Linked DNA regions of Homo sapiens. The protein of the gene in region 1 purifies or fractionates together with the protein of each later gene. This does not show direct contact. Each region holds a gene or a part of one and is shown on either strand. Other genes may lie near its edges. The genes, in order: SLC27A1, SAAL1, PPP6R3, ATP2B1, TFRC, ERAP1 and DYM.

Region 1 (3,500 bases):
TTCCCAAGCCCCTCCCATCCAAGGCCAAGAACAGACCGTAATAATGATCATAAAGCAAATGTCGGCTGGGCACAGTGGCTCACACCTGTAATCCTAACACTTTGGGAGGCTGAGGCAGGAGGATCACTTGAGCCCAGGAGTTTGAGACCAGCATAGCCAATGTAGTGAGACCCCCTTTTCTACAGAAAATAAAAAATTAGCCAGGCATGGTGGCAGGTGCCTGTAGTCAATGCTACTAAGGAGGCTGAGGCGGGAGGATCACGTGAGCTCACGAGATCGAGGCTGCAGTGAGCTATGATTACACCACTGGACTCCAGCCTGGGCAACAGAGTGAGACTCTGTGTCTCTAAAAAGGAAAAAAAAAAACAGCAAGTGCCATGGGGGCTGGGTCCTTAATGCCAAGAACAATGCTCCTTCCTCAGTGTGCTTGGTGTTGGATGGCCAGCCCCCAGGGCACTTTTGCTCACTGTAGCTCAGATTCTTGCATAGGAAACACACCAGGCCAGGCACGGTGGCTCACGCCTGTAGGGTCCAGCCCCACAGGGTCGGTGGGTTTTTCTCCCTGTGTGCGGAGACGAGAGATTGTAGAAATAAAGACACAAGACAAAGAGATGAAAGAAAAGACAGCTGGGCCCGGGGGACCACTACCACCAAGAGGCGGAGACCGGTAGAGGCCCCGAATGTCTGGCTGCACTGTTATTTACTGGATACAAAGCAAAAGGGGCAGGGTAAAGAGTGTGAGTCATCTCCAATGATAGGTAAGGTCACGTGGGTCATGCGTCCACTGGACAGGGGGCCCTTCCCTGCCTGGCAGCCGAGGCAGAGGCAGAGAGAGGGAGAGAGAGAGAAAGACAGCTTATGCCATTATTTCTGCATATCAGAGACTTTTAGTACTTTCACTAATTTTGCTACTGTTATCTAGAAGGCAGAGCCAGGTGTACAGGATGGAACATGAAGGCGGACTAGGAGCATGACCACTGAAGCACAGCATCACAGGGAGACGGTTAGGCCTCCGGATAACTGTGGGCAAGCCTGACTGATGTCAGGCCCTCCACAAGAGGTGGAGGAGTAGAGTCTTCTCTAAACTCCCCGGGGGAAAGGGAGACTCCCTTTCCCGGTCCACTAAGTAGCAGGTGTTTTTCCTTGACACTAAGGCTACCGCTAGACTAGACTTCCCAGACGCTGGCGTCACCGCTAGACCAAGGAACCCTCTGGTGGCCCTGTCCGGGCATAACAGAAGGCTCGCACTCTTGTCTTCTGGTCACTACTCACTGTGTCCCCTCAGCTCCTATCTCTCTATGGCCCGGTTTTTTCTAGGTTATGATTACAGAGCGAGGATTATTATAATACTGGAATAAAGAGTAATTGCTACAAACTGATGACTAATGATATTCATATATAATCATGTCTATGATCTAGATCTAGTATAACTCTTGTTGTTTTATATATTTTATTATACTGGAATGGCTCGTGCCCTCGGTCTCTTGCCTCGGCACCTGGGTAGCTTGCCACCCACACACGCCTGTAATCCCAGCACTTTGGGAGGCTGAGGTGGGTGGATCACTTGAGGTCACGAGTTCGAGACCAGTCTGGCCAACATGGCAAAACCCCATCTCTACTAAAAATACAAAAAAAAAAAAAATTGTTTGGGCTCAGTGGCATGCGCCTGTAATCCCAGACTCAGGAGGCTGAGGCATAAGAACCACTTGAACGTGGGAGGCAGAGGTTACAGTGAGCGAAGATTGCGCCACTGCATTCCAGCCTAGGCGACAGAGTAAGACTCTATAAAAAAAGGAAGGAAGGAAGGAAGGGAGGAACGGAGGAAGGGGGAAAAGCAGAAAGAAACACACCAGACAGGGTGTAGTGGCTCAAACATGTTGGAGAAGCATTTCTGTTCATAGAACCATGCCAAGCAGGGCGGCGGGCAGCAGGTGAAGCTCTGCAGTGTCTGACGTAGCTGTAGTGTCCACACAGAGGCATCTACTTCCTGCCAGCATGGAGGGTTTTGTGGATCAGGAAGTGGGTGCCAGCCAGAGGTCTTCTCTTGACTGAATGCAGGCTGGGAAGGTGGGAGGAGGGGCCCTGAGTTGGAGGCGACGCTTACTACCCTGCTTTTGCAGATCAGCCAAGGTCACAGAGCTTAGAATGACACTGGAGGTGCTAGGTCCAAGCCCCAGGGCAAGGCAGGCAAAGTGTTACTGAGAAGGACCCCGCATATCCCCGGCTCCTTCCAACTCAGTTCACCCCATTCCAGGTCGGCTCCTGTGGTTTCAACAGCCGCATCCTGCCCCACGTGTACCCCATCCGGCTGGTGAAGGTCAATGAGGACACAATGGAGCTGCTGCGGGATGCCCAGGGCCTCTGCATCCCCTGCCAGGCCGGTGAGCAGGGCCCCCGCATGGTCCCCACCCGGAGCAGGGGTCCCCACGCCCTGCCTGCCTAGCGCAGCCTGAACATGGCCTTCTCCCTAGGGGAGCCTGGCCTCCTTGTGGGTCAGATCAACCAACAGGACCCGCTGCGCCGCTTCGATGGCTATGTCAGCGAGAGCGCCACCAGCAAGAAGATCGCCCACAGCGTCTTCAGCAAGGGCGACAGCGCCTACCTCTCAGGTGCGCAGCCTGCTAGGCCCCGGTGACTGGCTGTGCGGATGGGGATCCTCCACCCATCTGCCCCTCTCCCCTCTGCCAGGTGACGTGCTAGTGATGGATGAGCTGGGCTACATGTACTTCCGGGACCGTAGCGGGGACACCTTCCGCTGGCGAGGGGAGAACGTCTCCACCACCGAGGTGGAGGGCGTGCTGAGCCGCCTGCTGGGCCAGACAGACGTGGCCGTCTATGGGGTGGCTGTTCCAGGCAAGCTGGGGTTGCAGGGGGTGGTCCTGAGGCATGGTCCTGAGGGAGCTCAGCCAAAAGGGGCTTAGAAGTACACATGCCTTTGGGCAGTGCACAACCTGGACAACTGCTCATGGCAGCCCAGGAGGAAGCACTGGATCTGGAGCCAGTTCACCTGGGTGATGTTGAGCCTCAGTTTTGTCATCCAGAAAATGGGATCATGAAAGCCCACCTGTCTTAGGGCTTCAATGAGCCAAGCAGGAGCTCCACAAAATGTGTGGCTGCTTCCATAAATGTCATCCCAGGTTGGGAGAGACTGGAGATTACAGACCAGGGGCTACTGCTTGACAGTGTATCTGGTCCTGCTGGTGGGGAGGATGAGAGGCGGGGTGTCCTCAGCTGAGCCTCTGCCTCCAGGAGTGGAGGGTAAGGCAGGGATGGCGGCCGTCGCAGACCCCCACAGCCTGCTGGACCCCAACGCGATATACCAGGAGCTGCAGAAGGTGCTGGCACCCTATGCCCGGCCCATCTTCCTGCGCCTCCTGCCCCAGGTGGACACCACAGGTGCGAGTCTCCCCCACTCCAATCTCTCTCTTCATCCATCAGTGTGTCTGTTGATTCATGTCTTGGTCCATTTTGTGTTGCTCTAAAAGAATACCTGGCCGGGG
Region 2 (3,500 bases), on another chromosome or scaffold:
AATCCACCATTGCTTGAAAACCATTCTAAACTCAGCCTGCTGCTTAAGACCTCTACTCTCTGAACCTAACTCATCTTTCCAGCATAAAATCTGGATAGCCAGGTAACCCTTCTGATTTAGCCAGACCTTTCTACTCCCTGTCTCATGCTGTCTCCGTGCCTCCCTTTGTGTGCCTTCTGTCCCCTCTCAGTATTTGCATCTGTTAATTCACAGTGGTACTTTTCCTTCCACACCTTCCCAAGTAAGTAAGTAAGCTTTCAGTAGTCATTGCTGTTAGTAAACTGCCAAGAACAATAGATAAAGACTAAAGGAGAGGCCTTTATATACTGTGCAGTGTACTGTGCTTTATTGCCAATTAAATTGCCATGTGCTATGCATATCATGGATTAGTAAATATCTGTTCAATAATTATAATTATGAAAAACTGCTGTTTACTGAATACCTGGTCTTACTACTATGAGGTATACTTTCAAAGAACTAAATCTTGGGTGAAGATATGTGTTCAGGGTCACACAGCTAGGAAAGAATGGAGCTGAGATTTCAGCCTAGGCCTGACTTCAGTATAACCACTGTACTGTATTTCCTCTCTTTCAGATTATAAAATGGAGAATTCCATAGTGTATTTTTACAAATTGAATGTTGAATTAGAATTCTTATTTAAGTAGAATGTTCTCTCTGAATTAGGGCCTGATTAACCGTTTTTTCCTTGATTCCTTATATTAATATAAGATTTGATGATTATGCTATTTTTATACTGAGTTTTTCTGTCTTAAATATATTTACTCACTACTAGTATATAAAGAAATAAGCTTATGTCAGGAATGGCACCTTTTAGGAATTAGTCATATTGTTGTATTATATCCGCTGGCCACCGTCTGCTGCCACAGTGATTCTCAGCCTTGGCTGCATGTTAGAATCACCTGGGACAGGGACTCTCAAACTTAAGCATGTCCCCGCATCACTAATTGCCGAGCCTCCCTCCAGAGTTTCTAGTCCAGTAGGTCCAGGATTCCTAATATGTTCCCAGGTGATGCTGGTGCTCTGGTGCATTGCCACACTCTGAGAAGCTTTACCCTAGGGAACTTTTGAAAATCTTGGTCAGGCCATACCCTAGATGAGTTAAAGCAGAATCTCCAAGTGTGAGACTCTGGGCAGCTTTTAAAGTTCCCCAGGTGATTCCAGTGAACAGCCAAGAAAAACTTGATCTTTGATTGGAAGTTCAGTTATTCCCTCTTTAGTTTATAAGGGAAATGTATGTGGTTTTTTTCTGCCCCTACTCACTCTTAATCTTTTCCCAACATTTGACCACCCACTTTTTATTGAAATTCCATTTCTATAGCTCCTGTGTCACCTCACTGTCGTCTCTGACCTCTTCAGTCACTCGTCTCTCACCTTTCATTGGCTTTTTTCTTTCTTCCTTTTTTATACTGTCCCGAATATGGACTTTTTCTAAGGTGTAGGCCCTGATCCTTTGTTCTCATTATATTCATTTTCCTAGTGAACTTATGTGTTCTTTACACCTTTAAGTTGCAACTCTGCCTGTAGGAGCAAAGCCTCGACTTCCCTTCTGATAACTGATGTCACATCTCCAACTTTGTTCAGGCATTCTCTGCTTGCACGCTCTACAGTTGTCCCTTGGTATACATGGGGGATGGTTGCAAGACATTCCCCCATACTGAAATCCACACATACTCAATTTAGCAGTCAGCTCTGTGGAACCTGTGTGTATGAAAAGTCAGCTCTGCATATTGTGCAGGTTTTGCATCTTGAGGACACTGTATTTTCAGTCCAAGTTTGGTTAGAAAAAATCCACCTATGAGTGGACCCACACATTCAAACCTGTGTTCAAGGGTCAGCTGTACTCTCTAACCCTGAATTCTGTATGTCCTCAGTGATTTATGGTCACACTTATCTAATCATAAAAGTCACCTGGTATATGCTGGGTAAACAATAGCTTTCCAGGCTCTACCCTGGAAATTATGATTCAGTAGATCTGAGATGAGATTTGGAAATCTGTATTTTTAACAAGCTCCCTGAGTGATTCTTATGTTCCAGCAAGGTTGGAAACACTGTACCATCTGAACTCATTGTAGCCTTTTATGCACTTTCTTTTTTAGTTTTCCTGTCAACGGGACCAATATCACTGATGGGGAAATGAGGCAACTTGAAAGCTAGGAGTCAAGTTCAACTGCTTTCTCCTTTATCCTCACACTGGATTATTTTGCTTTCACCTTGAGAGTCTTCCTCAGCTTCATCCTTTTCCATGCCTGAGGGCCCTCCTCCTCTTGCATCTTGATAACTGAGGTGCAGTTTGGAATAGTGGTTAAATGCTCAAGCTCTGGAGCTCTGCCGTGTTCTAGTTGGAGATCTTAAGATCTTAGGCAAGTAGCTTAACTTCTCTGTGCCTTAGTTTCCTCATCTGAAAAAATGGGGATACTATTAGTACCTATCACCTAAGTTATTATATGAAATTATACACAGAAAATGCTTAGAGTAATGCCTGGCCACCGTGAGTGGTAATAAACTGTTATTACATATTAATTAACTATTACTGAGATAGATTCTTAAGTTCTTTTCAACTTCTTTTCCCTATACACTAGTCTCCCCTTATCCTTGGGGGTTGCATTCCAAGGCCCCCAATGCCTAAAACCGAGGATAGTACTGAACCCTATTTATAATATGCACAAATTTCCTTTTCCTTCTTCACAGTTTCATGGATAGATTTGTTCTTAGAGATCCTAAGCAACCTCAGCATACATTTTTGTTTGTTTTTCTTATGAAGTCAAGAACTTTTACCTTTTCATGTAAAGAAAGCACTTAATGGCGGCTCCTTGGCATATCCAAATTGCCAGCATCACTACTCTTGTGCTTTGGGGTCATTATTAAGTAAAATAAGGGTGACATGAACACAAGCCCTGTGAGATATCCCGATGGTCGATCTGATAGCCAAGATGGCTACTAAGTAACTAATGGGCAGGCAGCACATACAGTGTGGATATGTTGAACAAAAGAATGATTCACATCCTGGGTGAGACGGTGCAAGATTTCATCGTGCTGCTCAGAAAGGCATGCAATTTAAAACATGAATTGTTTATTTCTAGAATTTTCTATTTAGTACTTTTATACCAAGGTTGACCATGGGTAACTGAAACCATGGATAAAGAGGGACTACACTAATACATTATGCATTTCGCCACCAGAGTAATCTTCCTAAGATACTGTTTCAGTATGTTGTCTCCCCTCCTTGAGCATCTTCATGATTCCAAATAACTTCCCAGATTAAGTCTAATTCTTCAGCACGGCATTCAGAGCCCTTAATCTCAGTCCTTTATACCTGCAGTATTTACCTCATGCTGTTCACCCACTTTGTGCCACAACCAGAGTACTTTATTGTCTACAGTATTCGCCATGTACATGATTCCCTTCCTGCCTTTGCTGATACTTTCCCCTTATTTGAATGTCTGTCTTTTTGTTTGCATATCTCATTCCTATCAATCATT
Region 3 (3,500 bases), on another chromosome or scaffold:
TCTTAACTTCAAATGATTGTCTTTTGATTTACTCTAGTTCAAGAGTTCTCAGTTGGGGGTGGTTCCCCCCTCACCCCCCAGGAAACATTTGGCAGTGTCTGGACATATTTTTGCTTGTTACACCTCTGGGAGTGGGCAGTGTGCTTCTGGAGGGTAGAGGCCAAGGATACTGCTAAACATCCTACAGTGTCCAGCATAGCCTCCTCCCTGCCCGCCAGCAAAAGTATCCAGTCCCAAATAGCAACACTGCTGAGGTTGAGAAATCCTGCACTTAGATAGATGTGAGACTGGCCTACATTAGAATAAGCCTGCATTAGAATAATTAGAAATTTTTTAAGACCATGGATGTTGGACTCCACCTCTGGAAATGGTGGGATTGAGAATCTTATTAATTTTTTTTGAGATGAGTCTAGCTCTGTCGCCCAGGCTGGAGTGTGGTGGTGCCATCTCGGCTCACTGCAACCTCTGCCTCCTGGGTTCAAGCAGTTCTCTGCCTCAGCCTCCCTAGTGGCGGGGATTACAGGCACCCGCCACCATGCCCGGCTGTTTTTTGTATTTTTAGTAGAGATGGAGTTTCACATCTTGGCCAGGGTGGTCTTGAACTCCTGACCTCGTGATCTACCCGCCTCGGCCTCCCAAAGTGCTGGGATTACAGGTGTGAGCTACCATGCCCGGCCACGAGAATCTATTTTTTAGAAGCTTCTCAGACAATACTGAAATGCAGCTGAATTTTGGAACCACTGTTTTACACCACAGGTTTAGGGACTGTTTGTGAGTTAAGGGTTCCTTTCGGTGATCTGTGAACTTGGTCTTTGCAGTACCTAGATCCTGCCTTGGAGATTATTTAGTAGTGGGGATTATTTAGATGGTATACTTAACCATTTTTCAGATGCCTGAAGACTGAACTTTAGAAGCATTTGTTAATTGATTTTATAAAATATCTTAGGACTTTTTTTTCTTAACCTCATGAAAATACATTACCATACTGTGCTGAAACTAAGCAAAATTCTTAGATATTTAGAGTTTGCTTCTGTGCTGAATAATCTTACACTACTGTAATTTTTGAGTTAGTATCTTTTGCCCTCCTTTTGTCAGTCAGTGGTCAGGTCTGGTTTTAGATGCCAGCTTCAACTTTTTTTTTTTTTTTTCGGAGACAGTCTCACTATGTCACCCAGGCTGGAGTGCAGTGGCATGATCTTGGCTCACTGCAACCTCCGCCTCCTGGGTTCAAGTGATTCTCCTGCCTTAGCCTCCTGAGTAGCTAGGATTACAGGTGCGTGCCACCACACCTGGCTCATTTTTGTATTTTTAGTAGAGATGGGGTTTCACCATGTGGGCCAGGCTGGTCCCGATCTCCTGACCTCAAGTGATCCGCCCGCCTCGGCCTCCCAAAGTGCTGGGATTACAGGCGTGAGCCACCATGCCTGTTTTTTGTTTTTGTTTTTGTTTTAATAAAGACCTATTCCCAGAGAATTAGCCCTGGATCAGTTTACCAGTTCTGCCCATTGAGGGCACAGATAGGCATACAGTATGCTCAGCCTTTAACACAGTGATCCTGCCCACTGGTAAGTTGGACTCTTCTGTGCCCTAGACTCTGATCCCAGCAGAGAAGTGTTCTTTTCTCCTGGGGAGATGAGATGCAGTGGTAGAGAGAAGGGTAGATCTTTTTTGCTCATATTAAAATTTAGATTATCTAGTTTATGGAATGGAAGAATATTAGGAAAACTATAAATTTTTAGCAGCTAAATGTTAATATCTGAAGTTACAAAAGGTCATGGAGGCATTTTCTTATTCTTCATCCTGAAATTCGGCCTGTGCCTATGTTGAGAACTACCAGTGACCACCATCTACTTCTAATATCCATTTATTTCATCAGCAAATACATTAATTGAGTCCTTACTCTGCTAGGAACTGTATTAGGGATTCACTGATGAACAGGCCCTTAAGGACCTGCAGTCTAGAGGAAGAGGCAAACAAGAGACGACAAAGCTGTTAAGAATTGTACATGGTGTCAATGGGGCCTGGGAGGAAAGAGCTTCTGTTTGCTGGTCAGTTGGTTGATTTGTTTAAACTTTGGGTGGTTGAGATTGCCAGAAGTTTTGCAAAAGAATAAGATAGTTACACTTTGTTACTCATTTATAAGAAATGATTACTTCGACTTGCCTCCTTAGTTTGAGGAGTCTTAAAAAGCAGTGCCATTCTTCCCATACTGAAGCCGTTTTGTAATGACAGATAGCTGTTTATAGCTCCCTACACAACAGTTATCCTTTGACCAAACCTCAGACACTGACTCTCTGGTTCCAGACCCGTCCGAAGCTTGCTGTAGGTTTTTGCAAAATGTTTCCGGCATTCTTGAAATAGATGCTACTTCAAGTGGGAGGGGGTGTTTCTCCTGCTGCATTATGGATCTAGGTTGACTGGAGATTTTGTTTTGGCCTTTTGACTTTGGCTTAGATTTATTTGTCATGGAAGCCCCCTTTCCTACTTCTCACCCCCTTTAGTTTTATGAGGAGGGAGATAGTTGCTAGTTAGATCAATACTCAGTTTATTTCAGGTATTGAAAGATTACAGACTGACATTTGGATACCAGGTAGGTTGGCTACGTGGTAAAGAAGCAAGTAAAAGGGCATTTGACAGTATGTGGAAAGGTATCTTATCTCTATGCCTAGCTAGGACATTTTCTTTTTTTTTTTTTTTTTTTTGTTGAGACGGAGTCTCGCTCTGTCACCCAGGCTGGAGTGCAGTGGCGTGGTCTCGGCTCACTGCCAGCTCTGCCTCCCGGGTTCACGCCATTCTCCTGCCTCAGCCTCCCCAGTAGCTGGGACTACAGGGGCCGGCCACCATGCCCGGCTAATTTTTTGTATTTATTTATTTATTTTGAGACGGAGTCTCACACTGTCGCCCGGGCTGGAGTGCAGTGGCGCTATCTCGGCTCACTGCAAGCTCCGCCTCCCAGGTTCACACCATTCTCCTGCCTCAGCCTCCCGAGTAGCTGGGACTACAGGTGCCTGCCACCACGCCCGGCTAATTTTTTTTGTATTTTTATAGAGATGGGGTTTCTCCGTGTTAGCCAGGATGGTCTCCATCTCCTGACCTTGTGATCCGCCCGCCTTGGCCTCCCAAAGTGCTGGGATTACAGGCGTGAGCCACCGCGCCTGGCCATTTTTTGTATTTTTAGTAGAGACGGGGTTTCACCGTGTTAGCCAGGATGGTCTCGATCTCTTAGTGAGCCGCCCGCCTTGGCCTCCCAAAGTGCTGGGATTACAGGCGTGAGCCGCTGCACCCGGCCCTAGCTAGGACATTGTCATGTCACAGACTGGGCAAAGAGCTGGCTTTACCCTGAGTAGAGGCTATTTACTAATTGTCACTTACGGCTGGCTAGAGTTGACCTGTTTTAGATGCATTAGTGAAGACTATACAGTTGACTGAACTTATGCAATTAAAGTTCGATAGGTTCTGAACATCTTTTTACAGATATAAGGAGGCTCTGATTTTGTACT
Region 4 (3,500 bases), on another chromosome or scaffold:
AAAAAAAGATGAAAGTTTTAGTGAAGAAACTGTGGTTTAAAATAGGTTATTGAAAAACAAAAGAAAATTCTGGCACAAATATGAAAGGTAGATTAAAGCAGCAGATCTGAGAGTTTTGAGAGTACAAGATTATTATTTAAAATCCTCCTGAGAGAGAACTCACTCACAGGGTTAATACAATGAATAATAGATCCACATTGTTAATAAAAAAGTATTTAAAAAGCATCTTTCAAGTTAAACAGTCAAATCTTCTTTAAGACCTATTTTTTTCAGAAAACATAAATTTGACTCCTAAATTTATCAGGTCTGTACAGTAGTCATGCCAGTTTACAGTTAGGCAGTGTAATCTCAGATTTCACAGTGTAAGCAAGCATTGGTCCATTCAACACTACCTTTATTTGTTCCCTCAGAGGCCCAGGTGACAGTAGTATTACTACAAAAGCAGGTATCCCATATTTTAAGAAACCATATTGTTGGAAGTCACTGTACTTAGAAATACCAAATATTCTTATAACTAAAAACACCACATACGATTTGGAATAGCTGACACTGTCCTAGGAAAAATTTAATAGAAAATAGCTTTTAAAAATATGGCAAAAAAAAATGTGCCCACAGTTTATTTGGACCTCTCTGCCAAAAATATTTATTAATTTAGATTACCATAAGCTTTAGTAAATTACAAGCTATGATTCCTAAATAAACCTTAAGGTGTAGCCAACAAGACTAAGTTTTGGAACAAACAAAAACAGGTTCCCAACAGTCTTGAGATGAACCTGCTTTGAAATTAATTTTATTATAAAATATATTTTAAATGCAGATACAGGCTATTTGCTATACTGTTATAAATGAAGCAAAAAACAACTGCATTTCAAAACTGGTCTTAAAGAGGAAAATTATTAAAGGCAGGTAATTCACGTGGATATGGTATTAGATAAAATAGTTCCAAAAGTCAGAGTAGATTGGTGAACTACACAAACGGTTATTTAACATTTAAGTGAGACAGCAGTAACTTCTGTTTTAATGCATAAAATAGTAAATTATCAATTAGTATGCTATCACTAATATTCTTGGAAGATCTACTTGCTGTTTTTGAAAGAGCAACTGCTTGTTAACTAAAATTAAAGAGAGCTATCTATCCACTAACTTATGTCCTTTTAGTCTGAAGGAATATCCGATCTTTTCTTCTAACAAAGAGCTAGACTAAAGGATAAACACACACTACTGTAAGGATACAGCATGCATTATTTTTATGAATATAAACTCTGGTGTCTAAGTCATTTGAAAATGGCAGACATTAAGACATGAAAATAAAAGAACATTCTCTAATAGTTTACAGTGCTTAATAAGTAACTTAAGTAACCACAGATGGATCTTCTGAAAGACTGGGCATACATAGATAACAGAAATATTTTCAATTTATCAGTTCTAGGATTGTCACAAAAACCATCGACATCAACAAATCAAACTTTGCTACTGATTTAGGTATCTCTACCATGTAACTTTAACTTAGTTATAAATGCAATGTCAATGTTTCTCAAAATGCAGACTACTGTAGCATTTGGCCCCACCTCAAATCTGCTGAATCAAAATTCCAGGGGCAATGCCAAGGAATCTGCACTTTCAGTAACTCCCCCAGGTGATTCTTCATGCACATTAATGCTGGAGAACCACACCTTTCTTGTGAGATTTATAACCAGGTTTTGGATTTCAGGAACTAAAACCTCCTCATTTGGAACCTTTTAAACTAAATTTCATTACAGAACAAATGAATATTTCAAAGAGATTTAGGTAATAAACATGTTATAGTATAAAAACAAGTGCATAAAAAGTTACAGCAGAAATTTAAAGAAGAAACTTTTAGTACAGCACATTTTATTTTTATTCAAGATTTAAGACACCCCTAGGCCAACAGTTCTTTGAAATCAAAATTCCTAACTTAAAAAAATCCACAATATTAAAAATATAGTATTTCAGATACGTTCACATTCACTCAGCTGTTAAGTAAATCAAAACACAAACTGTTTGTATTACACCAAATATAAGTAATGATTAAATTTATAAAGCTCAACCCAAACAAACCCATTCATATTTCTCTATTAAATTTACTCTGATCAAAACTGATTTTCCATACATAACTTTCATAAACTTACATAAACGTGTATAATGAGAAGAGCAATGAGCAAAATCTAGAAGCCACCTAAAGTCCAGTTTGGGCTAAAAAAGCTGCTAGCTATATGACCTTAGGGCCTAGACAAATCACTTTGCCTACCAGAAAAAAAACAAAAAACAAAAAACAAAAAAAAGTACAATTGTCTGCCTTACTCACCACACAGGATTATTGTGAGAATCAAATGAGGTCATATGTAAATACATTCTGAAAACTGTAAAGTAGTTAATAATAATACCTGTGATTTCTGAAGACAGCAAAATTTGAGAGACACTATCTTTGGGCACCTGCTGTAAAATACACAAACTACCACCAGAAAAATTAAAATGTATATGCCACTAAAGAATCAACGAAGAACATAAAAACTGACCATTCAGATTTAATTAGATATTGGACACTATTGAGTATACCGTATTCTGAAAAATACAAATACAAAAATTCGATTCGATTACCTGTCCTATGTCCCCATTTATAACAGAACCATTTCTTGTGTTAAGATATAAATGAAATGTGATGGACCACGAGAGTTGGTAATTGTCAAAACTGGCCAGTAAGTATATCATTCTCTCTACTTTCCTATGTTTGATAATTTCTATAATAAAAAATTTTAACAAGACAACAATATATGTGGTATGTATAGATAACATTTCTAAAAGCTAAAAAGTGAATTTTTTAAAGTTATTTATCTTTATGAAAATTATTCCCATAACCATTGTATGTTATTTTCCTGGCAATGTCACCTCAGATTCCACCTAGTCCCAAATAAGCTACTATTAGTACCTTTATTACATATCATGACAGCTACTAGAAAATAATTATTCCCTTCCATCTGGTCAATACTCTTGCCCGAGATGCAAAAACCTAAATGTTTGTTTCTGCTTTCTGATCCTCAGTCCTTTTATTGTTTTTTGCTCATCCATTACAAAATTCCAGAATAAAAAAGTGAAAACATCAATTTTACTGTATTCATGTGTAAAATGTAAGGGAAAAAAACCAAATATTATTTTGTTCAATATTACAGAAGACCAATAGTTATAAGTGGCCGTTCCTTTTAAAACTCATTTCCCATGGTAAGAGACTGTTGCATCTGAAATGAAGTTAACATGTCTGTCAGTCAAAGGAAATTAGTAAATCTTACTCTGAAATCAAGGAATCTATGAAAGTATATATAACAACATATAATTACTCTACATGCAACAATCTAATAGCTCAAATAATGTCCTTTATCCCGGGGCCATATTCCATAGTTCGACAGAGAACACATAGCAGTAAGGGGATAAAACACCTTTCATCTCAGAGTTTTTGGCTAATTTTAGTTTAATAAAGACTTATC
Region 5 (3,500 bases), on another chromosome or scaffold:
GGGTTTCTCCATGTTGGTCAGGCTCCATGAGGTCAGAGCTCCTGACCTCAGGTGATCTGCCTCCCTCAGCCTCCCAAAGTGCTGGGATTACAGGCATGAGCCACCGCGCCCAGCCTATGTGTCAGTTTTATTGGGAGGTAATAAGGCCCTAGGAAATTCTTGTTAAAAATTGACCATTATGACTAGAAAATCTATTCTAAGTTATTGACTAGACCAGTGATAAGCAAATTTCTTAAGGGGGCAGATAATAAACCTTTTGCCAGGCTATACAGTCTCTCTTTTAGCTGTTCAACTCTGTGGGAGCAAGAAAACAGGCACAGACTGTGCGTAGTGAATGGGCATGCGGGCTGTAGTTTGCCAGTCCCTGGAGTTAACTTTAAATGCAATCAAACAGCCAACACTTACTAAGAAATAAGTCCTTGGACTTAAGTAGTCAGTAAATTTAATTAGTAGTGTAGGAAAAAAGTAGCTCTACTAGTAAGGTAAAATTAATATTCTCATGTGAATTTTTAATTCCCAGAGTTTTTAGTCAGATTTGAAGTAAGGCTCTTTTATCCTTAATACATATACTGTGCTTTTACCTTTCTACTGATGTGCTAATTCTAGAAAAGTTTAGAAGCTGATTATATAAGTTCTTTCTTCCTCTTTTTTCTTTTTTAAAGATCACTATGTTGTAGTTGGGGCCCAGAGAGATGCATGGGGCCCTGGAGCTGCAAAATCCGGTGTAGGCACAGCTCTCCTATTGAAACTTGCCCAGATGTTCTCAGATATGGTCTTAAAAGGTAGAGTACAAATTTTGATTCTTTTGAATATTGGTGCACTGCATACAGTTCTAGATGTTATACTGTGCTTTGCTCACTTTGCCTGCATTCCTGTGGTTCTCATGCTAGACTCTAGTTCTTAAATACAAGGCAGATTGTCTTTTGTTGTAGCTGCCTTTTCCTTTGAAACAGCTTTCCATAAAGTGTCTTAACTGTGCTAGAAATCACCAGTTTCTTTGAGACAGTGGAGTTACTGAGCCCTAGTGCTTAGTGTGGTGGATCCAGAGTGATAAGGTGGATCATAGTCCCTAAGCAATCTATTTGAAAGCAGTAGCATACCTCTCTACTCATGTACTGAGGCCTAACAGCTATTGAAATTTTGTTCTGTTTATTCATTTATTCATTTTTTGAGACAGAGTTTCACTCTGTTGCCCAGGCTGGAGTGCAGTGGTGTGATCTCACTTAGCTCACTGCAACCTCTGCCTCCCGACTTCAAGCAATTCTCCTGCCTCAGCCTCCTGAGTAGCTGGGATTACAGGCACCCACAACCACACCCGGCCAATTTTTGTATTTTTACTAGAGACAGGGTTTCGCCATGTTGGCCAGGCTAGTCTCCTGACCTCAAGTGATTCACCCGCCTCAGCCTCCCAAAATGCTGCTAGTGAGCCACCGTGCCCTGCCTCTTTTGTTTATTTTTGAGCCTTTCTGTCCTACTTTCCACTCTTTCACACTCCTACCCACCCACACATTCAAAATCACGTCACATTCTTGAATCTTTGGGTCTTAGGGCAAACTGCAATGCTTAACTTTAATACAGAGTACATTAATGGAGAAAAAGATACAGTGAGGGAAGTGGGAGGGATGGAGGGCAGTGTGATACATGTAACCTCAAAAGGTGCTGTCACAAATATAGTTTCTCTGCAAACTCTTCTTGTAACTTAAATTTGTGAATTTTTATTTTATTTTAGAATTATTTTTTTAAAAATCCAATGTTTGGATTTACCTCTGAAGATTTTTCTCAAGATGTGCATCATCATGCTTACACTGTTTTCAATGATCTCTGGGTCCAGAAGTTAAGGAACTCCAAGAATGAAATTGTGAAAGGGTGACTACTGGCCCCTGCTATGTACTCAAAATCTTATTTGCAGATCTCCTATCTTGCTCTTTGTAGGTTACTTTAAAAAAAATTATTCCTATTCTTTTATTCTTTTACCTGGGGTCTCAAAAAAAGATTTTGTTAGTTTTTTTTTTCTTTTTTGGCTCAGAAAAAAAAGATTTTGGAATCTGCTATCTTGGAATTAGACCTTCTGATTCATCTTAAGTGGGATACCTTCCATCCTTGTCTGTGTATAACCTTTCCTCAGGTAAAGCTAACTTTTTTCTCTTTCAGATGGGTTTCAGCCCAGCAGAAGCATTATCTTTGCCAGTTGGAGTGCTGGAGACTTTGGATCGGTTGGTGCCACTGAATGGCTAGAGGTATTCTTTATCATCCCTTCCCATATTGGACACGAGCTTGTGGGCTTAGGCTGTTGTCCAGAAGTGATGTTTTTATAGGTTTGATTTTACCACTTTTGCCTTTGCGTTTAGTCTCAGTAGAGTCCAGAATTGAAAATGAATCCCTAATGCTACTGTATGTGATAAATAAACAGATTTATACTTATTAGTGTTTTCCCTTCTCTTCTAGGGATACCTTTCGTCCCTGCATTTAAAGGCTTTCACTTATATTAATCTGGATAAAGCGGTTCTTGGTAAGTATCCCTTTCATTAGCTGTGTATGAATTCAGGTAAACTTTTTTGAGATGGAGTTTTGCTCTTGTCGCCCAGGCTGGAGTGCAATGGCACGATCTCGGCTCACTGCAACCTCTGTCTCCCAGATTCAAGCGATTCTCCTGCCTTAGCCTCCTGAGTAGCTGGGATTACAGGTGCTCACTACCACACCCAGCTAATTTTTTGTATTTTTAGTAGAGACAGGGCTTCACTATGTTGGCCAGGATGGTCTCGAACTCCTGACCTCAGGCGATCTGCCTGCCTCGGCCTGGGATTACAGATGTGGGCCACTGTGCCTGGCCAGATAAACTACTTTGAAGTGGAAGAAAGCTTTTTTTTTTTTTTGAGACAGGGTCTCACTGTATTGCCCAGGCTAGAGTGCAGTGGCACAATCTTGGCTCACTGCAGCCTTGACCTCCTGGGCTCAGGTGATCCTCCCACTTCAGCCACCTGGCTAATTTTTTTTGTAGAGATGGGGTTTTGCCATGTTGCCCAGGCTGGTGTCAAACTCCTGAGTTCAAGCATTCTATGTCAGCTGCCCAAAATGCTGCGGTTACAGGCATGAGCCATTGCCCTCAGCCTGTATCTTAACCTTCCTTTAAATAGTCTGTCAAGTTACACAGTGAGCACAATTGCTTGTCTAGAACAGTGGGTAGTTCTCAGTGTGGCCCCCAGATGAGTAGCATTAGGAACTGTTACGAATGCAAACTGTCATGTCTACCCCAGACCTTTGAGTCAGAAATGGGAGTGTTGGTCTAAAAACTGGGCTTTTTGGGCTGGGCGCAGTGGTGCACGCCTGTAATCCCAGCACTTGGGAGGCCAAGGCAGGCGGATCACCTGAGGTCAGGAGTTCGAGACCAGCCTGGCCAACATGGTGAAACCCCGTCTCTACTAAAAATACCAAAATTAGCCGGGTGTGGTGGCGAGTACCTGTAATCCCAGCTACTCAGGAGGCTGAGGTAGGAGAATCAC
Region 6 (3,500 bases), on another chromosome or scaffold:
TTCATATCTCTTTTCTCCATTAACTTATACATAGGAATCAGCTCATTCAAACCTTGAAACACGGGCATAATTTCAGTTTCATGTTTCAAGTACAGGGATAAATCCAAGGCCTTTTCAATGGACAGCTTCCCAATGCTGACCAAGAGACACTGTGGTTAGTGGTTTAAAAGTAAATCCGGGAAGTCAACTTTTTGCTTCAAAATATATTTTAATCTTCTAGCAAAACAAGCAATCAGATATAAATGTCCCTTATAAATAGATAACTACGGCCGGGCGCGGTGGCTCATGCCTGTAATCCCAGCACTTTAGGAGGCCAAGGCAGGTGGATCACCTGAGGTCGGGAGTTCAAGACCAGCCTGGCCAACATGGTGAAACCCCGTCTCTACTAAAAATACATAAAATAGGCAGGCATGGTGGCAGGTACTTGGTATGTGGGAGGCTGAGGCCGGAGAATCACTTGAACCCGGGAGGCAGAGGCGGTGAGCTGAGATGGCACCACTGCACTCCAGCCTGGGCGACAGAGTGAGACTCCATCTCCAAAAAATAAATAAACAAACAGATAGATAACTACTATATAAGTCTCTTTTCTATCACATATAACACAACATCCGGCATGTTTACACTAGGGAGGAAGTTTCTCAAACAGTAACGTCTAGGGCTAACGTGGATAAGCCGGAAAGGAAGCACATCAGCATCTATCCCTGTGAAACACTGGATTGAGTGGTGAACTTCTAGAGTAAGCAAGGGATTTCCATCAAAGACCCTTTAGGAAGCCTGGTCAAACAGACTATCATCTGGTCAAAACCATGAGTTCCTGGAGGAAACACATTTTCTTCTCCATTTCAAAGACACTGCATATCCTTAGAAACCCTTCATTACAGAGGGTTAGTGTTAAAAACCTCAGTGGTAGGGTATATATTATATAAGTTAAAAAATAAAAAAGAAGAAGCCCTCTAAGGCTCAAGCAGAAATATTCTACAGAGGGGAATTTTTTAGGCAGAAAGAAACAGCTAGGTAAGCAACCCATAACTTTCTCCCCCATTGCTTTTTCTCACTTCAGGAGGCCCAGTATGGTGGTGAGAAGAACCAGAAGGCACTCAAAATTTAGGCCAGAAGGATACGGGTATGAGGAGAAAGAGATAATCCTTCCCACCTGCATGCTTCCTCTTAGGACTTTAGGTCTGCCTACATGTTGAAGAAGTTTGAGTTTTAGGCTTTGGGAGCATTTCCTTAAAAACCATTGTCATGGGGGAGGAAAAAAAAAGGGTAGTGTTAATTCTGTCTTCACACACTCAGAGATCATTTGGTTGGGCTACATTTTATGAGCTATATTCCATAAAGATGCTGCAAAGTTCAGGTATCTGGTTTAGGAAAGAAAAAAAAATCCCTTCTTTAACCCAAGAAATGTAATGCAAACAACTTGGGCCTGTGTCACTTAGTCTTCTAAGAAGACTTCAAGGCTGTTATAAAGACCCAGTGGTGGGAGAAACCTGATCCGGTATAGCGGGGCCAGAAGAAGCTGCGGGACCATGCCGCGGGGACAAGGCAAGGAGTTTCGCCAGGATGTTGATCTCCTGGTTATCTACACTTCCGCCTCAGTATGATCTGAATTATTAATGAGAAAGATTAAGATACAGATTCCTTCCTTCAAGTGCCTTAGTAGTCACAGACAGGAGGTTAATTATAAGACTAAAAGCAATCTTGGGTTGTTAGAAGAACTTAAAGGAAAACACCTTTCAACTTCTTGTTATCAATCAATCATTTTTGTCTTTAGAAATCAAGAATTTGAACAATAACAGCTGCTTTCAGAAATAAACCGCGACTTTGTGCAGCGTGTATTACCTGACGAGCTGAAATGCATTGTTAATGAGACTCGCCCGATCATTACTGCTGACTGCTGTGTGTGTTCCTTTTAAAAGGCCAGTCAAAGAGTCCCATCCATCATCCTCGTAATGCACAATGTAATAGCCATTCATGCCCACATTAAATTTGATCCATTCCACCTCTTCTGGGAGGATGAGCACATCTAGAGTAAATAAAATAAATCAAAGTTCCATTTGCTCCCCTGCCTGAAGAAAGCTTTTCTCATCCAAGATTGGGCAAGGAAATTAGAGAAGAGTTTAATACTGAAAAATTTGAAAACATCACTTATTTCTCTCAGAAACCAGAAAACAGCAACTCAATAGACAAAAGCTAACACTAGCTTTAGACATCAATTTTGTGAGATTTACAGATCTATGAAAAGAATGGCAACTACATCTCTGGCCATACATATGATATAACCCAGTAATGTTAACAAAGTAATAGTGAATGTTCACTGGTAATCCCTCCTTTTTAGCATTATATAATTCAGCTATAATCTCTATCTGGCAAGATATTGGCCATTCTTCTTTGAAACCAGAAAGCATTTTCAATCTGATCCCTTTTGCTTTAACCAAGATAAATAGCAAAAGAAACAGCACTTTAATCCTACACATTTTCACATTCCTCCTTGAATTAACTAGTAGTTTCCAAAATAAATTACCTGTTTTTGTTTTTAGCAAAAATCGATGGACCATGTCGGATTTGCTGGTGATGAATGTCAATGGAACATGCCACAGGTACCTAAAATAAAGGAGAGGTGGATTGTTCATTTGTTGATTCAATTCAACAAGCAGTTATTAAATCACCTATCATGTGCCAGGCACTGGTTAGTTTAGAACAAGATAGTACCAAAACTGCTACAGCCAAGCTCTCAAAACATCCCCAGTCTGTTTTCCAGCTTTGTAGGGAGTGTCAGCTCGGGCACTATTTCCTTTTCTTGGACTCCTTGAGTAGAGCTAAGAATTTGGACTCACGTGAACCCTGAAAGCCTTTTTACAGTGATTGGCTGATTGCATCTCAGAGGCCTAACTTCAGGACTCATGTGCCTCCTGAATAGTATATTAGGAAGGACACAATATCACCTCCTTGGGATTCCTGTCAATGATATGTAAGCTGAACCTGATCATGGAGAAACAGCAGAAAATCCAAACTGAAAGGCATTCTATAAAATAACTGGCCAGTACTCTTCAAAAAATGTCAATATCGAGAAGCCCAAAAAAGACTGAAGAGTTGTTTCAGAAAAAAATGGAGACCAAAATGATGCAACAACTAAATAAAATAAGTGATCCTGTATTAAATCCTAAGTCAGAATTTATTTTCTATTTTGCTATAAGGATATTTTTAGGACAATTGGAAAAAGTTGAATGGGATTTATAGATAATAGTATTATATAAAGTTTATTTCCCAATTTTGATAATTGTACTGTGGCTATGGTTATATAACTGAATGTTCTTGTTTTTTGTTTGTTTGTTTTGAGATGGAGTTTCGCTCTTGTTGTCCAGGCTGGAGTGCAGTGGTGCGATCTCGGCTCACTGCAACCTCCACCTCCTGGGTACAAGCGATTCTCCTGCCTCACCCTCCTGAGTAGCTGGGACTACAGGCGCCCGCCACCATGCCCGGCTAATTTTTGTATTTTT
Region 7 (3,500 bases), on another chromosome or scaffold:
GTTTTGTAGGTAATCCATTCATTATTTGCATACATTTTACATAAATCACCGCACAAAACAGAAAGATTAATATTTTAATTACTTTGTTTTCACATTGAACCAGCTGCACAAATTCAATGTAACTATTAATGGTGGCAGCCAAGCAAACAGAATTTCTTATGCCTAAATAGATAAAATTTATGTGCACCAAAGAATTGAAAAAATCTGATAAAACTTACTTGCTACTCCTGATGCAAGTCCATAAAGCAGTCCTCCCCCATCCGACTGCTGAGGGAAAACATGGGCCCCTGGAGGAGGTGGCTTTTCTTGTCTGATAAAGTTATATAATAAGGTCTTCACAAGTTTGCTGGTGTATGGAAGACTATACAAAAAGGAAAAAAAAATCAAACTCATATTTATGGGAGTCATCTAATTCTGAATAACAATACAGAAATAATTCTGCCATTAACACTATCTGTTAATACAAAAGGGCTATTGGCACAACTCACAGAAATTGAGCACTGCACACAACAGTGAAGACCATGGGCTTTGAGAGCAATTTTGAGGCTTAATCCTTGCTTTTCCTCTTATCACATCATAAGATATTGATCAAATTACTTAAATACTTTTTTTCTGCAGTGGGGAGAAACAAGGTCTGGTAGAGACAAGGTCTCACTATGTTGCCCAGGCTGGTCTCAAACTCCTAAACTCAAGCGATCCTCCCGCTTCAGCCTCCCAAAGTGCTGAGATTACAGGCGTGAGCCACCGTGCCCAGCCCACTTGAACTCTTGAACTCCAGTTACTTTATCTACATTCGGTATAACACTGTGAGCTATTATAAATTTAGTGCATAACACATTATCTGGCAATTGAAGGGAAGTAGTAATAAAGAATCAGTAGAAAAAAGCAAGAATTTAAAAATAACAATAGGACTACACTTTTTAAGTATGAAATTATTCAATTATTCAATTGGTATTAAACTAATTCCTGCAATATAGAGTAAACTTTTTAACAGATTCTTTAATGTACTATTGAGCTTTTTAAATATGGTTTCCAAGATGAACCCCAAAAATAAGTAAAGAACATATTACGGTTTAAATATGTGGCACCATAATGATACTATAAAAACCTTACTTAGAAAATAAGAACACTAACACCCTCTATGTCTATTTTTAAAAAGCAACTTGAATACTCTGGCACTATAAGGGATGAAGTTCACAATCTTGTTTCAGCAAAGATGCACACAGTCCCACGATGCCAGCACTACTTCAAACCACGGTCATTCTGAGTGTCATTCTGAGTGTCTCTGTCAGAGAGGGTTCCAATGCAAACCTCTGACTCCAAAGCCCAGATCCTTTCCCTCAGTGATTTTCAAATATGTTCAAAGAACATACATGCCACAGGAATAATCAGGGTAGCAAAAAGAATATGAAGAAGACAAAGCTCCCCACTATCTGAGAACTTTCCTCAAAGGTACTTTATTTGGATTTGTTTTACATTTTTAAAGTTTTGTGAAGATTATGTTAATAAAAGGTCAGGTATGTGCATATGTGTTGGTCATTTGCATCCACACCCTCTAGGAGATCGTAAGCTTCTGCTCAAGAGCATAGCCCCACAGTCTAACATGCCTGGCACATGGATAGCACACAGCAAATATTTGCAGGCTCAAAGAAGTAGGAATAGTCAGCGAAGAGGCTGCTGGAGAAGTCCAAAGAGAGTAAGGGGGCATAGATCACAGGTGTTTCAAAGGGACTGCTGAGAAGAGGAAGATACAAAAATAATCTGAATAACAAATATGACTTGACTGCTTAAACATAGACAGAATGAAGGAGATGGAAGAAAAAGATGATTTCAAAGTTTCAATTCTACGAAGCAACCACTGGAGAAGGTAATGAAGCTACGGGACAGGAAGAACAGGGAGGATGGGTAGATGGCACAGGAAAGTAGAATGCGGTTCCCTATGCACTGGGTTTAAAGAGACAATAGAACAACTAGAGGAAATACCTGGTTGGAGATATGGGACGATACTCAGGTAAAAGGACAAGACTAGAAATATAGATTTATACAATGAAAAAACTAGACATACTTAAAGTAGAAACATACCATGGACCTCGCATCAAATACTTGTGGCTGATGCTCTGTCGCAAAACTTCTTTGTGGAAGAGTTGGCAGGAAAGGAAAACAACCATTGTTGATATAGCTTCTACTGATATTTCATATGTAATATCTCTAAAATGGAAGAAAAACAGAGTAACAGTCACTTTGGAAGATTAAGACACTATTCTTTTCTAAATGAACTATACATTTAAAAACTCAAATCTAAATATTCAGTATTTTCAGGTTACTGAAAAATGTTAATACGTTTAATACAAAAATTAAGTCAAGCAAAAATATTAAACTCCTTCCCTGTCATTAGCTGGTGTATTTGGGTTAGTTATCCCTTTATTTCCCTATTTTCCAGTTTCCATCTCCTATTAAATGACAAGTCTATTTATGTATAATGGAAATAGTTACTAGCAGTGTTCTGTTTTGAAGATTCACTCTAGACATCTATGTTCATTTCTGTTTAGTGATAATACAGAGACAAATACTCAGATTGTAAAGCTGAAGAGAAGGTACAGTGTAGGGAAGAAAACAATGCCTTTTCATGTTGATGATCACTTTACAATCAGAACAATAATACACCCTAGATCTTGTGTCTCTAGTGCCTACCTTTCTCAAGGTCAACTTTGCATGTTCAGCAAAATATTAACAGTAAACAAGTTATTCCTGTTTTATTAAGCATATTTTGATTATGAAGGGTTACTCTGTCCTCTCAAGATCATAAACCCCTTTGGGAAACAAGTCTTAGATCAAATAAAAAGAAAAAGATTCAGCTGAACAGAAAGCACACAGAGGAATAAAGGCATCCAGAAATTTCCAGTTACTGCAAAAGTTTAAACAGGATTATAATGGGGAACATGTTAAGACCAAGGAAGTAGAAACCTCAACAACGCAGTAAAAAGAGCAATAGCACCAAAAGAATACTAAAATATTTTTATAAAAATGAAATAATTATGAAAAACAAAGAAAAATACTTAACACCTACTTAAATGAAAGCTCATTAAACAAATTAATGATGACTTGATTCTAGAACTAGAAAAATTTAAATTCTACCAGATATCTTAAGGAGTTATTACTGATAGAAATATGTTTAAAAGGCCAGGCTCAGTGGCTCACGCCTGTAATCCCAGCACTTTGGGAGGCCAAAGCGGGTGGATCACCTGAGGTCAGGAGTTTGAGACCAGCCTGGCCAACATGGTAAAACCCCATCTCTGCTAAAAATACAAAAAATTAGCTGGGCATGGTGGCGGGCACCTGTAATGCCAGCTACTAGGGAGGCTGAGGCAGGAGAATGGCTTGAACCTGGGAGGCGGAAGTTGCAGTGAGCCAAGATCGTGCCATTGCACTCCAGCCTTGGCGATAAGAGCGAAACTCCATCTCAAAAACAAAAAATAAAGAAAGAAAAAGAAATATATTTA

What was found.
Region 2: the proteins of SLC27A1 (region 1) and SAAL1 purify together in Homo sapiens (co-immunoprecipitation; 2 studies listed by BioGRID and IntAct, with this or other methods). This does not show direct contact.
Region 3: the proteins of SLC27A1 (region 1) and PPP6R3 purify together in Homo sapiens (affinity purification with mass spectrometry; one large-scale study listed by BioGRID and IntAct). This does not show direct contact.
Region 4: the proteins of SLC27A1 (region 1) and ATP2B1 purify together in Homo sapiens (affinity purification with mass spectrometry; one large-scale study listed by BioGRID and IntAct). This does not show direct contact.
Region 5: the proteins of SLC27A1 (region 1) and TFRC purify together in Homo sapiens (affinity purification with mass spectrometry; one large-scale study listed by BioGRID and IntAct). This does not show direct contact.
Region 6: the proteins of SLC27A1 (region 1) and ERAP1 purify together in Homo sapiens (affinity purification with mass spectrometry; one large-scale study listed by BioGRID and IntAct). This does not show direct contact.
Region 7: the proteins of SLC27A1 (region 1) and DYM purify together in Homo sapiens (affinity purification with mass spectrometry; one large-scale study listed by BioGRID and IntAct). This does not show direct contact.

The regions. Positions count from the first base shown.
Region 1 is NC_000019.10:17,498,024-17,501,523, forward strand, and holds part of SLC27A1 (long-chain fatty acid transport protein 1), read left to right. Parts: intron 1-2,254; coding exon 2,255-2,381; intron 2,382-2,471; coding exon 2,472-2,609; intron 2,610-2,688; coding exon 2,689-2,853; intron 2,854-3,249; coding exon 3,250-3,396; intron 3,397-3,500. UniProt on the Homo sapiens protein: Mediates the import of long-chain fatty acids (LCFA) into the cell by facilitating their transport at the plasma membrane.
Region 2 is NC_000011.10:18,092,583-18,096,082, reverse strand, and holds part of SAAL1 (protein SAAL1), read left to right. Parts: intron 1-3,500. UniProt on the Homo sapiens protein: Plays a role in promoting the proliferation of synovial fibroblasts in response to pro-inflammatory stimuli.
Region 3 is NC_000011.10:68,463,752-68,467,251, forward strand, and holds part of PPP6R3 (serine/threonine-protein phosphatase 6 regulatory subunit 3), read left to right. Parts: intron 1-3,500.
Region 4 is NC_000012.12:89,702,339-89,705,838, forward strand, and holds part of ATP2B1 (plasma membrane calcium-transporting ATPase 1), read right to left. Parts: intron 1-3,500. UniProt on the Homo sapiens protein: Catalyzes the hydrolysis of ATP coupled with the transport of calcium from the cytoplasm to the extracellular space thereby maintaining intracellular calcium homeostasis.
Region 5 is NC_000003.12:196,061,591-196,065,090, reverse strand, and holds part of TFRC (transferrin receptor protein 1), read left to right. Parts: intron 1-662; coding exon 663-782; intron 783-2,151; coding exon 2,152-2,237; intron 2,238-2,445; coding exon 2,446-2,509; intron 2,510-3,500. UniProt on the Homo sapiens protein: Cellular uptake of iron occurs via receptor-mediated endocytosis of ligand-occupied transferrin receptor into specialized endosomes. Endosomal acidification leads to iron release.
Region 6 is NC_000005.10:96,783,946-96,787,445, forward strand, and holds part of ERAP1 (endoplasmic reticulum aminopeptidase 1 isoform b precursor), read right to left. Parts: intron 3,162-3,500; exon of another isoform or gene 2,605-3,161; coding exon 2,525-2,604; exon of another isoform or gene 2,027-2,524; coding exon 1,843-2,026; exon of another isoform or gene 1,440-1,842; intron 1,124-1,439; exon of another isoform or gene 136-1,123; coding exon 1-135. UniProt on the Homo sapiens protein: Aminopeptidase that plays a central role in peptide trimming, a step required for the generation of most HLA class I-binding peptides.
Region 7 is NC_000018.10:49,331,646-49,335,145, forward strand, and holds part of DYM (dymeclin), read right to left. Parts: intron 2,209-3,500; coding exon 2,083-2,208; intron 362-2,082; coding exon 219-361; intron 1-218. UniProt on the Homo sapiens protein: Necessary for correct organization of Golgi apparatus. Involved in bone development.